Homo sapiens: one gene and its partner. The protein of the gene in region 2 binds, or shares a complex with, the protein of the main gene of each other region. Each region holds a gene or a part of one and is shown on either strand. Other genes may lie near its edges. The genes, in order: CCM2 and MAP3K3. A codon is read from its position in the direction of its gene.

Region 1 (4,034 bases), on a different chromosome or scaffold from region 2:
GAGATGTGACAGCCAGTCTCCTTCCTAGATGTCTGTCCCCTTGGGGGTCTCCGCAGGGTTGTGGCTGCTCTCCGGTGGAGGGAGAGGCTCCGGACAACCTGACCCAGGTCACCTCTTCTCCCCTTCCCATATCCAAGGAAGCTTTGTAAGGGCCCAAAGGGTATAGGCAAGACCAAGGCCAACAGGGTTTGGGGAGAAGAGCTCACGGGACAAGGATGGAGACAGGCCCACAATGACGGCACAGGGAGGGTCGGCAGAGTTGCACACTGGCCTCTGAAGACCCAGCCCCCAGGCTCCAAGGTGACGAGATCTCAGAGAGCATTTCTGTTCCACGGGGTAGTGCAGGCTGCTTGAGGAAAAAACCTGCAGCATGGGGTTGGGGGGAGGGGGGGTGCGGGGCACAGCCAGTGACCTTGAAGGATTCAGTGCACAGGATGTAAAGATCAAGGTGCCCCCAACACATGCCACACACGCTACCCTCACACACGCTGCCCACGAAAGGCCTCAGAACACCCGCTCCTGCCCCACATCCACACTGCTCAAGTCCAAATCAAGTCCTTCCTGTGGCACAAGAGCCTGTTGCCTCCTCCACCCCAGCCCCCAGGGACCACTGCCGAGTCCCAGGTGCTGCAGGGCAGATGGGGACCCAGGGACAGAGGCTAGAGCGGACACCCCTCCTGGCACCGATGGCTTTCACCCAACTGGATCAGAAACATGCTTGGCAACCAGAGATTAAATTATTCACATTGCAGTAAACTTCTTTTTAAGGTCTCTGAGAGTTACAATAGGAACATCATGTGCAAAACTGACAGCCGTCCAAGGGCCCAGCCGACAGGACTGGCTCTCCCTGCCCGCTCGGCCGGGCCCTCCCCGAGCGGGGACACACTGCAGGGCTTGGCTGAGCCCTGGTGGACAAGGCAAAGAGCCTTCCACCCCGCACTGAGGCTCGTGTCCCTCGGCAGCTCCCTGCTCCTTCACAGTAGAGGACCTGGGCCGCCCGGGGCCATCTGCACCGGGCGCCTCTCCCTGGCCACCACCAAGGGCTGACACGCAGGTCTGGGCAGCTCCTTCTGGGAAGGCCTATGACGACTGCGCGGAAGGTGTGGGTGCCCCCCCATCCACTGTCCATCATGCTGAGTCCTGGTCCATGCTGCAGCCCAGCGCCTCAATGTCGCTGCTGATGTCCGAGATCATGCGGTCCCACTCATCCCCCTCTGAGGGTGCCGACCGGTCATCAGAGCTGCCCGTGGCCCTGTTCCCATTGGTGGTGGAACTGGATGTGGTGCTCAGGGCCCGCCGGTGCCTGCCAAAGCTGTCAGTGATGATGCCGCGGCCATCCTTCACGCCAATGGTCTCCAGGAAGTTCTCGAAGTGCTGGCTGTCCTTCTCAGGGATGAAGGGCCTCAGACCTGCAGACACACAACACCCAGCATGGCACCTCCAGTTCGGCTCAGCCCACTCAGCTCTTCTCTCAGGGCTCAAAGCCCCCTGACAGGGCCACAGCTGCCCCTGGTGCATGGCCTTGGGGACCCTGATGCCATGCTCACTGCATCTAGCATCCTGGTTGAAATCATGCTTCCTGGGGCCAGACAGTTTGGCTAAAACCTCAACTCTTGACAGACACTGCTGCTGGCCCTGACAGCTTACTGCCTCTGCCACATGCACACTCCCTGGCCTCAAGGCACCAGCACAGGCCAAGAACCTGTGGCCTCCTCTCATTCTCTATTAGTCCTCACAAAGGACCCATTTTACAGTGGGGAAAGCTGAGGCCCAGAGCAGTGCTCAAAGCCACCTGCTGGCACCCGGCAACAAGGGTGCAGTCCTCAGAGGCAGGCCTCATGCCAAAGTCCAGTTTCCCTGCCATGACCTAGGTGACTGTCCCAACTCAGAGGGCTGCCCTCTTATTTGGGAAGCCTAGTGTGTCTCTCAGAATCTCTACTCCCCGATGTGGAGGGGCAGACAGAGTCCCATGCCAGGAGGCAACGCAGGGCCCAGCACAGAAGGGGCAGGCACTGCTTAGACAGAACCTATTGTACAGACAGGCTGCCCCAGCCTCCAGCCCTTCACGCTCCTAAGAGCGGGGAGCCCTGGGCAGGCAATCCACGTTTGCCACTGCCAGGTCGGTACGATGGTTAACAAACCCACCTTCCTTGGTTTGCAGGGAAAACAGGCCAGGACCCAGAAGCCTTCAACTGGCTACTAGCAACACATTACCGCAAACTTGCTGTGTTCTAAGTGTCGGCAGAGGGAAACCACAGCTAAGTCACCGCCCCTGAGAGGTGTGGGGCCAACATCCAACTCTGCTGCTCAGACCACACAGCCCTCTAGCCGCACTGACCTAATGTGCCGAGCATTTTAGGGGTCTTGGCAAACGCTGGTCCTTCCGCCTTGAAGTCCTACACATTCACCAAAACCCATGCCTCTCTGGCTCCTCCAGCACTGTTTTCCTAAATCTCAGGGTTGTGTTCACTCCCAGCCCTGCTCCTGGGGGATCTCTGCTACTTCCTGGCAGGGCCCACCCAGCTCAGCTTGAGTTCCCAGGAGAATGAAGGCCTGTCGGTGGGCCCCCAACAGTACCTGGGAAAAGCCCTTCTGACTAATCACAGCAGATTCCCCGATCTCTGGACTCTGCTCTCATGCCATCTCTGGTTCAAATCTCCCATCCCTGATGGAGCCCCTGCTGCACCCACTGAGGGGTCCGTGTGCACATTCCCAGGAGGGATCAGCCTCTCCAAGCCAGGTTTGGACAAGCCACCCTCTTTCCAGGGCCCACTCACCAAGCAGCAGGAACTTGCGGCTGTCCCCGTAGAGCTGCCGCAGGTTGATGCAGAACTCGTGGATAGAGGCCCCATTGCGGTACTCGTGCAGCAGTGCTGCAAACTGCTGGATCTCCTGTGATGACAGCTTGGTGCGCAGCTGCAAGAGAGCAGAGCCAGATAGGGGGCTGGGCACAGTAGGCAAGAGTCGGCAGTCGGGCCCACCTTGCCACAGCCACTAACCCCAGCCAGAGCACCAGCTGTCTCTGGCTTCACCTCTGCACAGGCTGGGGCATCAGAATGACCACAATGTGTCCCCATCCTACCAGACCTGGCACGGGGCCACCCAGAGGAGACCAAGGCACCCGGGCAGCTCCACTCTCCTGAGCTGGAACACAGAGTGCATGGGAGGGACAGGAGCCAGCAGGGCAGGGTGGAAGTTGGCAACCTGGCCCGGGGCCAATGCCTGTGCCCTTAGGCTACACACAGGCACACAGGCAAATCAGGAAGACTTGAGTTTGCAATGACAGAACTATATAAGATGGGGAGGATAAAAATGTCTGGCCATGTGGCCTTGCAGGGGCCACCGTTCCCTCCCCTCCCCCAGGACCCAAGCACAGGCCCACAGTCCAGCCCTGACGGCCACAGCACTCCCAACTCAGCCCCACTGACTGATGCTCTCCTAGACTATCCCCAGGAAAAGGCAGTGATGTCAGCAAAATTGACCAAGAGTGCTCTAGGTGACCTCACTCACTGCAGCCTGCCCTGCACTGCTCCTCCTCCTCCTCCCCTTCCCCCCATCCTCCCTGGGGCACCCCCTCCCTCATGCAGCCCAGCGTCCCTGCAGCGGAGGCCTACCGTCAGCATGTAGTCCTGCAGCAGCTCAGTGGCGCTGGCGCTCAGCTCGCTCTCACTGATGGTCTTGCTGTGGGGTGATGCACCACCCACATCCACAGATTCAGGGAAGCAGCTGCGAAAGAATGTGGTATGTGAGCGGGTGGCTTCCCCGACCCTCCATCCCACACACGTTTCAGGAAACCTAGTCCATGCCGTGTGTGTGGGTCCCTGTCCTTGAACAGAGGAATGTAAGTGATGATGATGATGATGAGAGGAGAGCTGACTGGGCATGCAGGGTGGTCAGCTTGGCCTGGTCCTGGGGCTCCCCGGGGGCATGGCTCTGAGTTGGGCTCTGAGTGAAGAGAGGGAGTACACAGGTCAAGGCAGTGGGCAGCATTGTTGGGCAGGGGAAGGAGCCAGGGTTGGGGAGGTGGCAGGAAT
Region 2 (7,789 bases):
CAATCAAAACAGCTGCTAACTATTCAGAGTCTACATAGGTGGTCAGATTCTAGCCAAACTGAATTGAGACTATTCTAACAGGGAGCTCCTAACAGCCTTGGAACCCTAGACAAGGTGTCTGTAAGTCACAATAATTCTGACTTCAAACCAGAACCAGATCATCTGTAATCCTGTACTCCATTCACTATAGTTTCCTGTAGCATTTCCAAGTTGTTACATATTTTTCAGTGATATATAAAGTTTCAGACTGCGTTTATAAAAAGACCACATAAACAATCTCAGGTATTATGAACAGCATTTGCCACTATGATTACTAAATCTGGAAATGAATTCTGGAGTGACCAAGAAAAAACAACCAGTCAATCCCAATTTTTTATAGCCACATAGTATCAAAGCAAAAAAAAAAATTTCCTATTATTTACAGAGATAAATAATTTCCACTAGAAATTCATTGGGGCTAACAGACAATATAAAATCTGACATGTTTTTATTAACCCAAGTTGTCAAACAGGCTTCAGTCTTGGGCTTAGAACAGCTCAGGAAAATGTGACTGTTACTTAACCAAAGAACCTGCAGGGCAGAGACTCAAGTTTTAGTCCTTTCTTCATGAGGCTGGAGTTTAACAAGTATAACTAAAATACTAAGAAGTCTATGTTTCTCTCTTATCAATCCTTTGAGTTTATTTAGAACTACAGCAACTAAAAGCAAACTAACTAAACTGGAAATTCAAATTTTCATCACCAAAATGGAAACTAGTATTTAAGAGAGAGACTGTGTGTGAATGTATCTGTGTATACATATCCTCAATGAGCTCTATACAAAGCAAATTGAACAGCCAGGTGTCAAGAAGAATTCAATATTAGCTCTAACAGTGTATCAAGGTCATCTACTTTCCCCTCACAAAAAAGATGGAGAGAATTGTATGGGGGAAAGTGAAGAAAGCTAGGGCAGTGGTTCTTAAACTAGCTTGCCTAATATACTGCAGCCACCAGGGAAGTTAATTCCTCTTGCATGTTCCTTTTACATGTGTCTTCACGTAAAACTGACAGGAGGACAACTGATGTGGGGACAAATGAGAAGATCCTGAGGTCCTGGCCCTTTTTTCTTTGGGGCTCTAGACCCAGCCTATATAGTTTCCTTCCTCCCCATCATTGGTCTCCATATACTCACACACTTATAAACTTTTTGAAAATGTCTTGAAATGTGAAAACAGGTTCATATCTATTTTCATGTTAGATAATGAGATGTAGTCAACACATGTGGGCACTCTAACTGGTGTAGCAGTCAACAAAGTAGGAAGTGGATGGTCTACATACCCTTAAGTATTTCACACTCTCCTTTGGGACTAACAGCTGCCCCCACAGGACAAGAAAAAAGACTTGTAAGAAAGACTATCACAATACAGGCTCATAAATCAATTCGAAGATTTATTCAAAATCTATAATACAAGATAAATGTTTGAATCCTGGGGTAGACAAGAATTCTGTGTCTCATCTATAAAAAAATTCAATAAACATTTCTTCAATTATATATTTAAATACCAGGCCTTACTGGGTTCCTTTTATGTCCACTCTCACAGCAGACCTTCCCTCAGAAGAGCACGCACTTCTGAAGGAAAGCATGAGAAGGAAACAGTAAGCCCAGCAAATGAACAAACCCTTCTCATACTGTATGAGGGACAGCATGAACTAGAACAAGGCAATTCATTCAAAGCCAGGGTGTAGAGATGGGTCACAAAACAATATCTGGCGAATTTGACATAGCGTACAGTTAACCTCCTACAAAAAGGACTTGACCTTGCTATAGGGCAAGGCAAACATTAAGGCTCCCTCTTCACATGGGGCACTTCACAGAAGCAACGGAACGTTTTGCAAACGATCCTCTCACTGAAGTTTACCCTTTTATTATTATTTAGGGCAATACCAAATATTTTGCAAAACTTGTGACAACAGTATCACAACACCTGTCTGGGCAGGAGAAGTAAAGAACGTTTAAAATGTTATTTCTTAGTCTAGTCCAGTAGTCATTTGCTAAACTACCAAAAAGGATATGGAATATAATTCAACTCAAATGCTACGTGCGGAAGACATTAAAAGCTTTCCTTAGATTACATCTTCACAGTAGAAATTGTAAATACTGACAAAAAGGAAGTGATTTCAGAGAAATTCTTTTGTGTAGCAAATGTTTCTTTCAAAAGTTACATAATTTCAGGGATACCGCAAGAAAAAAATAATGGATTAAACCCCTGCAACGGGATTTTTCAAAAAGTAGGATGTGAATTCTAACTGGCAGCATCCGACCAACTCCTGACCCCCAGCAATCTGCGTGCAGCACGCATTTGTCAACCGCGCGCTTGATCACAGCTCCAGTTTAATCGCCTCCTAGCCGAGCCCCGCACGCCCTCCCCCCTGCGCTGGGGCGCGCACAGGGCTGGAGAGCAAGCCCCGGGAACTCTCACAGGCCGGCCTGTGTGAGCAAAGGGAAGGAAATGACACAGGCAGGAAAAAAAAGCAAATCAAGGAAAAGACACAACAGCAGCTGGGCCTGCGGCAGCCTCCAGCCCGGGCCCCACACTGCGCTCTTGCTCCCCCGCCCTCGGGCTCGCGGTCCGGCTCGTTCGGACCAGGCTGCCCCGCGGAGCACGGGCCCTCGGTCCCGCCGCCGCTTCCCCGGGATGCGCCCGCCGCGCCGCCCAGAAGGAGGGCTGCCGAGCGGGCTCTGCCGGCCGGGCCGCCCCGCGGAGCCAGAACCCCCGCCCGGGCCGCGGCGCGCGAGCGGGGCGGGCGGCCGGCCGGCCGGCGGTCCGCAGCCCCGGGCCGGGCGGGCTGTCCATGCCTGTCAGGCGGTGGCCCAGGGTCCTCCTCCCTCAGCCTGGGGCGGGGCGTCGCGAAGCAGCGCGGGCACAGGCCGGGGCGGTGGCGACACTTACCCATGGTGGCGATGGCGGCGGCGGTGGCTAAGGTCCGTGAGTGTCACCTCCGCAGCCGGGGCTGCATGCCGGGGGCCCGGGCGGCGGGGACGGCAGCGGGCCTGGCTCCGCGCGGGGGGCGCGGGCTGCGCTCTGGGCCCCCGCCGCCTCCCCAGGCTCCGGCTCCGGCTCCGCCCGCGGCCGGGCGCTGTGGCATCGGCAGGGTGGCCCGCTACATCCCGGGCGCTCCTGGGCTCGGCCCAGCCCGGCCTCGGCGGCGCCGCTCGGCCCGCCCGCCCGCCAGTCCCTCAGACCCGCAGTCTCTCCGTCCGGCCACCGTTCTCCACCTCAGGAACGCTCCGAAAAACAAACCGCTGGTCGCGCAGCTCGCCCCCCTGTCTGTCACTCACGCCGGCCCCCACCAATCCCAGGCAGCCGCTGGGCCGTCGCACCACCCCCACCCACCTCACCAGCCAATAACAAGAAGGAAGTCGGCAGCCCCCGCCGTCCCCCTCCAACTCTCTCCCAACACCCTAACTCTCAGCGGCCAGCTAATCATCAGCACCACACGATGAACCAATCCCGCCTACTCTCACAGGATGCCAATGGGCGAAGCCAAGGCGGTTTCCGAGGGCTGTCTAGCGCCTGCCAATCATCGGGACAGCGCCCGGCTCCCTGCGCTGTTAGCCAATCACGTAGAGGCCTCTAAGCCCCCGCCTCTGCGCATCCCTCTCTGGTGCTGTCTCCCTCTCTTGGGAGAGATTGGGAGGTGTTGGTTGTTCCAATCACAGCTCCGGCGTGAGGCTCCGCCCACATTCCCACCTCCCGTCAGTCACCGAAGGCTCGGCGGGCGCGCGGGCTGGCGCAGTTCCCCGCCGGCTACTTTAGGGCTGGGGTGAGGAGTAGGCGGCTGCAGGGGGCCCTCAGGCCTTCCGCCCTCCGGGTTCTCGGAGGCCCCAGCGATCTGGGTGGTTCCAGAGGGTGGCGTCCTGCTCCTCCCCGTGCCCAGCACAGGGCGTGTAACGAGTGGGGAGGGTCTGGCCTGAGCACTTCCCGGCGCGCGGCCACCTCTGCGGCCCCATCCCCCGACTGGTCCTCCGGTCCCGACGCTGCTCTTGCCCCGGGCAGGGGCGGCCGGCCCAGCCCAGCTTTCCCTGTCTCACACCTCCAGGGCCACACCCTCTGGTCTAGGTACCTCAGACACCCGAGGCTGGGATAGTGCTGGCATGTGGGTCCCTGGAAATCTGAGTTCCGCCAGAGGTTCTTTCAGAAAATAACTTTTTTCTTATAAAAGCAACACGAGCTTTTTGTAGGAAAATTGAAAAATGCAGAAAACTATGAAAAAGAAAAGATCCCACCCCAGAGATAATCTATTTCCTACCTAGATAGGCGTTTGACAAAAATGGCTTTGTATTGTTTTGTAGTATGCTTACATTTTATTCTGTTTTCCCGTGCCACCAAATATCCTTCCAAAACAATTGTACTGATTGCATGATGTTTCAAAATTAAAGGCACCATAATTAATTTCCCCAACCTTTTCATTGTTCAACATTTTATACACTCAGATCTTCAGATTCCAAGTCCACCACAATTAATGTGGGCTCCTTTCTCCGGCCTCTGTTCCAGTGTAATATGTCAGGCTCCAGAATAATCTTCCTCAGATGTCATTGTCCACTGTCCACTAAGAACATTTAGTGGTGGCTTTGCCTTGAGTGTCAAATCCCTTAAGAATTACCTTGGGCTCTCCCCTATTTCTTTTCTTTTTCTTTTTTATTTTTCGAGATGGAGTCTCACACTGTCGTCCAGGCTGGAGTGCAGTGGCGCGATCTCGGCTCACTGCAACCTCCGTCTCCCGTGTTCAAGCAATTCTCCTGCTTCAGCCTCTCAAGTAGCTGGGATTAACAGGCGTGCGCCACCACGCCCGGCTAATTTTTGAATTTTTAGTAGAGACGGGGTTTCGCCATGTTGTCCAGGCTGGTCTCGAACTCCAGACCTCAGGTGATCCGCCAGCCTCGGCCTCCCAAAGTGCTGGGATTACAGGCGTGAGCCACTGCAAGCAGCCTCCCTTATTTCTTTACACTCATCTCCGTATATTTAATCAGCCCCCTTGTCCTGTTTTCTTTTTCTTCCAACAAGCTTAAGCCTGCCATATTCCCACTTGATTTGGTCTCTACCCAGTTTACTGGAGTTCCTTAACTATAATAATCTCTATTCTTGAAAGCGGGGATAAAGGGGAAAGAAAATTAGTATTTATCAATATAACAGGCACGTCATTGCATTTAATTTTTCCAATAACTCTAAGGTTATTATGCTAATACTGTGGGCATTTAAATGATGAAAGTGAAGCTTAGAGAGGTTAAGCACTGTGTCCAAGTAGTGGAGCCAGGATTCATACCAAGCCTGTGTGACTCCCAAAGGCCATGTTCTTGCACTAGGCCAGTGTTTCTCAACCTTTTTTTCATTATCCACCCCTGCCAGGAAAAAATTTTAATTTAAATTACTTAATTAAATTTAAATTCTCCCTAAGAAGAGAAATTAAATACTAAGGAATAAGATTTTGTCAGGTAGAGTAGAGCCTTTGTAAAAAAAATTTTCTGTAGAGTTGGGGGTGTCCCACCATTTTGCCCAAACTGGTCTCAAACTCCTGGGCTCAAGCAATCCTCCCACCTCAACTTCCCAAATTGCTGGAATTACAGGTGTGAGCTGCCATGCTCCTTTCTGTTTTCCCAATTGCTAAAGCACAGATGCTGCTCGACTTACCATGGGGCCATGTCCAGATAAACCATCAGATGAACAATCGTTAAGTAGAAAATGCATTTAATACACCTGACCTACTGAACATCATAGCTTAGCCAAGCCTATCTTAAGCGTGCTCGAACACTTAAGTTAGCCTACAGTTGGACAAAATTATCTAACACAAAGCCTATTTTATAAGAAAGTTTTGAATAGCTCATGTAATTTACCAAATACTGTACTGAAAATGAAAAACAGAATGGTTGTACTCAAAGCACAGTTTCTACTGAATTGTGTGTTGCTTTTGAACCATCATAACGCCAAAAATCATAAGCTGAGGCCGGGGCACAGTGGCTCACACCTGTAATCCCAGCACTTTGGGAGGCTGAGGCGGGTGGATCACTTGAGGTCAGGAGTTCGAGACCAGCCTGACCAACATGGTAAAACCCTATCTCTACTAAAAATAAAAAATTAGCTGGGCGTGGTAGCGCACACCTGTAATCCCAGCTACTTGGGAGGCTGAGGCAGGACAATTGCTTGAATCCGGGAGACAGAGGTTGCAGTGAGCCAAGATCATGCCATTGCACTCCAGCCTGGGCAACAAAAGCAAAACTCCATCTCAAAAAAAAAAAAAAAAAAAAAAGGTATAAGCCGAACCATAGTAAGTCAGAGACCCTCTGTACAAACCTAGGAGTGTTCCTTGATTATTCTCTCTCCCTGACACCCATATATCCAAACATGCAGCAAATCTTTTCAGCTCCCACTTCAAAATGTATCTGAATCAGGTCGGACGCAGTGGCTCACACCTGTAATCCCAGCGCTTTGGGAGGCCAGGGCAGGTGGATCACCTGAGGTCAGGAGTTCGAAACCAGCTTGGCCAATATGGTGAAACCCCATCTCTATTAAAAATATAAAAATTAGCCAGGTGTGGTGGCCTGTAATCCTAGCTACTTGGAGGCTGAGGCAGGAGAATCGCTTGAACCTAGAAGGCGGAGGTTGCAGTGAGCCGAGATTGTGCCACTGCACTCCAGCCTGAGCAATAGAGTGAAACCCTGTCTCCAAAAAAAATACAATAAAAATACACACACACACACACACACACACACACACACACACACACCTGAATCCAACCACTTCTCATCCCACCCCCCTTATCCAAGCCACCACCTACTCTCCTGAATGACTGCCCCAGACTCCTATCTGGCCTCCATTGTTTCCTCTGTGGCAGCCCAACAAATGATTCCCCAATAGCAACCAGAGTGATCCCTGTAAAATGTAATTCAGATCACGCCACCCTACCCCCTGCCCACTGTCAGCCCTCCAATGGCTTCCCTCCCATCACACTCAGAATAAAACCCCAATTCTTTGTCATGACCTGCCAAGCCCAATAGGAGCTGGCCCCTCCATCCTGTCCCTCCATCACTGTCCTCTAGCTACTCTGGCCTTCTTTCCATTCTTTGAAACTACCAAGCCAAGATGTTCTCATTTCTGCAGTTTATTCAAGTCTCTGCTCAAACGTCTGCTTTTAAGTCATTTCTTATCACCCCATCCAAAATGACCCCTCCCTTCCATCATTCTGTATTTGTATATTTTTTCCTTGTTTTTTTTTCTCAGTGGCTAAAATTATATATTTATTTGTTTGCTCTACTCCAACTACCACAAACATAAGGTATGCAGGAGCAGGAATTTTGTCCTGCTTACTGCTCTATCACCAGCACTTAGAATAGTGCCTCACACATGGAGAACCGCAGTACATCTACCTGAGTCTTTAGCTGAAAACAACCTTCTGATTTACCTTCTACCTTTCTTACAACTGCCTTCTTTGTGGCTTCATTTGCACTGTCGGTGTCTCAACCAGCCATCTCAAACATTCCCATACTGCAGTTACCATATGCGCTGAGGATTCCAGAATCTCAACTGTGTCTCTAGCTCAGGGATGTCTTTCTTCTGAACTCCACAGACATGGGTGTCCCACAGGAACCTCCAATTTTGGGTCCAAACTGAAACCATTTTCCCCCATAGTTCTGTATTTTCTCTGTCCCTCTCCAGTTTCCCAAGTTGGATACCTTCGAATGATCAGATAGCTCTTTCTCTCCATTTCTTTCCCCCACAGCCAGTCTTGAACAAGTCTCCAATCTGTCCATCCCT

The links.
Region 1: the proteins of MAP3K3 (region 2) and CCM2 are in contact, whole or in part, in a crystal structure (PDB 4Y5O), measured with the Homo sapiens proteins. Residues at the interface, in NP_002392.2 of Homo sapiens: Asp2, Glu3, Gln4, Ala6, Leu7, Ser9, Ile10, Met11, Asn12, Asp13, Leu14, Val15, Ala16, Leu17, Glu50, Asp82, His84, Met86, Asn88, Glu89, Leu90, Ser91, Ile92, Leu93, Arg117, Leu119, Leu121, Ser122, Gln123, Asp124; in NP_113631.1 of Homo sapiens: Leu299 (codon at 3,635), Tyr302 (codon at 3,626), Met303 (codon at 3,623), Leu306 (codon at 2,916), Arg307 (codon at 2,913), Ser312 (codon at 2,898), Gln313 (codon at 2,895), Ile315 (codon at 2,889), Gln316 (codon at 2,886), Gln317 (codon at 2,883), Phe318 (codon at 2,880), Ala319 (codon at 2,877), Ala320 (codon at 2,874), Leu321 (codon at 2,871), Leu322 (codon at 2,868), His323 (codon at 2,865), Glu324 (codon at 2,862), Arg326 (codon at 2,856), Glu333 (codon at 2,835), Ile336 (codon at 2,826), Asn337 (codon at 2,823), Gln340 (codon at 2,814), Leu341 (codon at 2,811), Leu353 (codon at 1,407), Phe356 (codon at 1,398), Pro358 (codon at 1,392).

Annotation. Positions count from the first base shown.
Region 1 is NC_000007.14:45,073,152-45,077,185, reverse strand, and holds the end of CCM2 (cerebral cavernous malformations 2 protein), read right to left. Parts: intron 3,727-4,034; coding exon 3,615-3,726; intron 2,917-3,614; coding exon 2,778-2,916; intron 1,410-2,777; coding exon 1,129-1,409; 3' UTR 733-1,128; downstream 1-732. UniProt on the Homo sapiens protein: Component of the CCM signaling pathway which is a crucial regulator of heart and vessel formation and integrity. May act through the stabilization of endothelial cell junctions. May function as a scaffold protein for MAP2K3-MAP3K3 signaling.
Region 2 is NC_000017.11:63,617,904-63,625,692, reverse strand, and holds the start of MAP3K3 (mitogen-activated protein kinase kinase kinase 3), read right to left. Parts: upstream 3,277-7,789; 5' UTR 2,934-3,276; coding exon 2,930-2,933; intron 1-2,929. UniProt on the Homo sapiens protein: Component of a protein kinase signal transduction cascade. Mediates activation of the NF-kappa-B, AP1 and DDIT3 transcriptional regulators.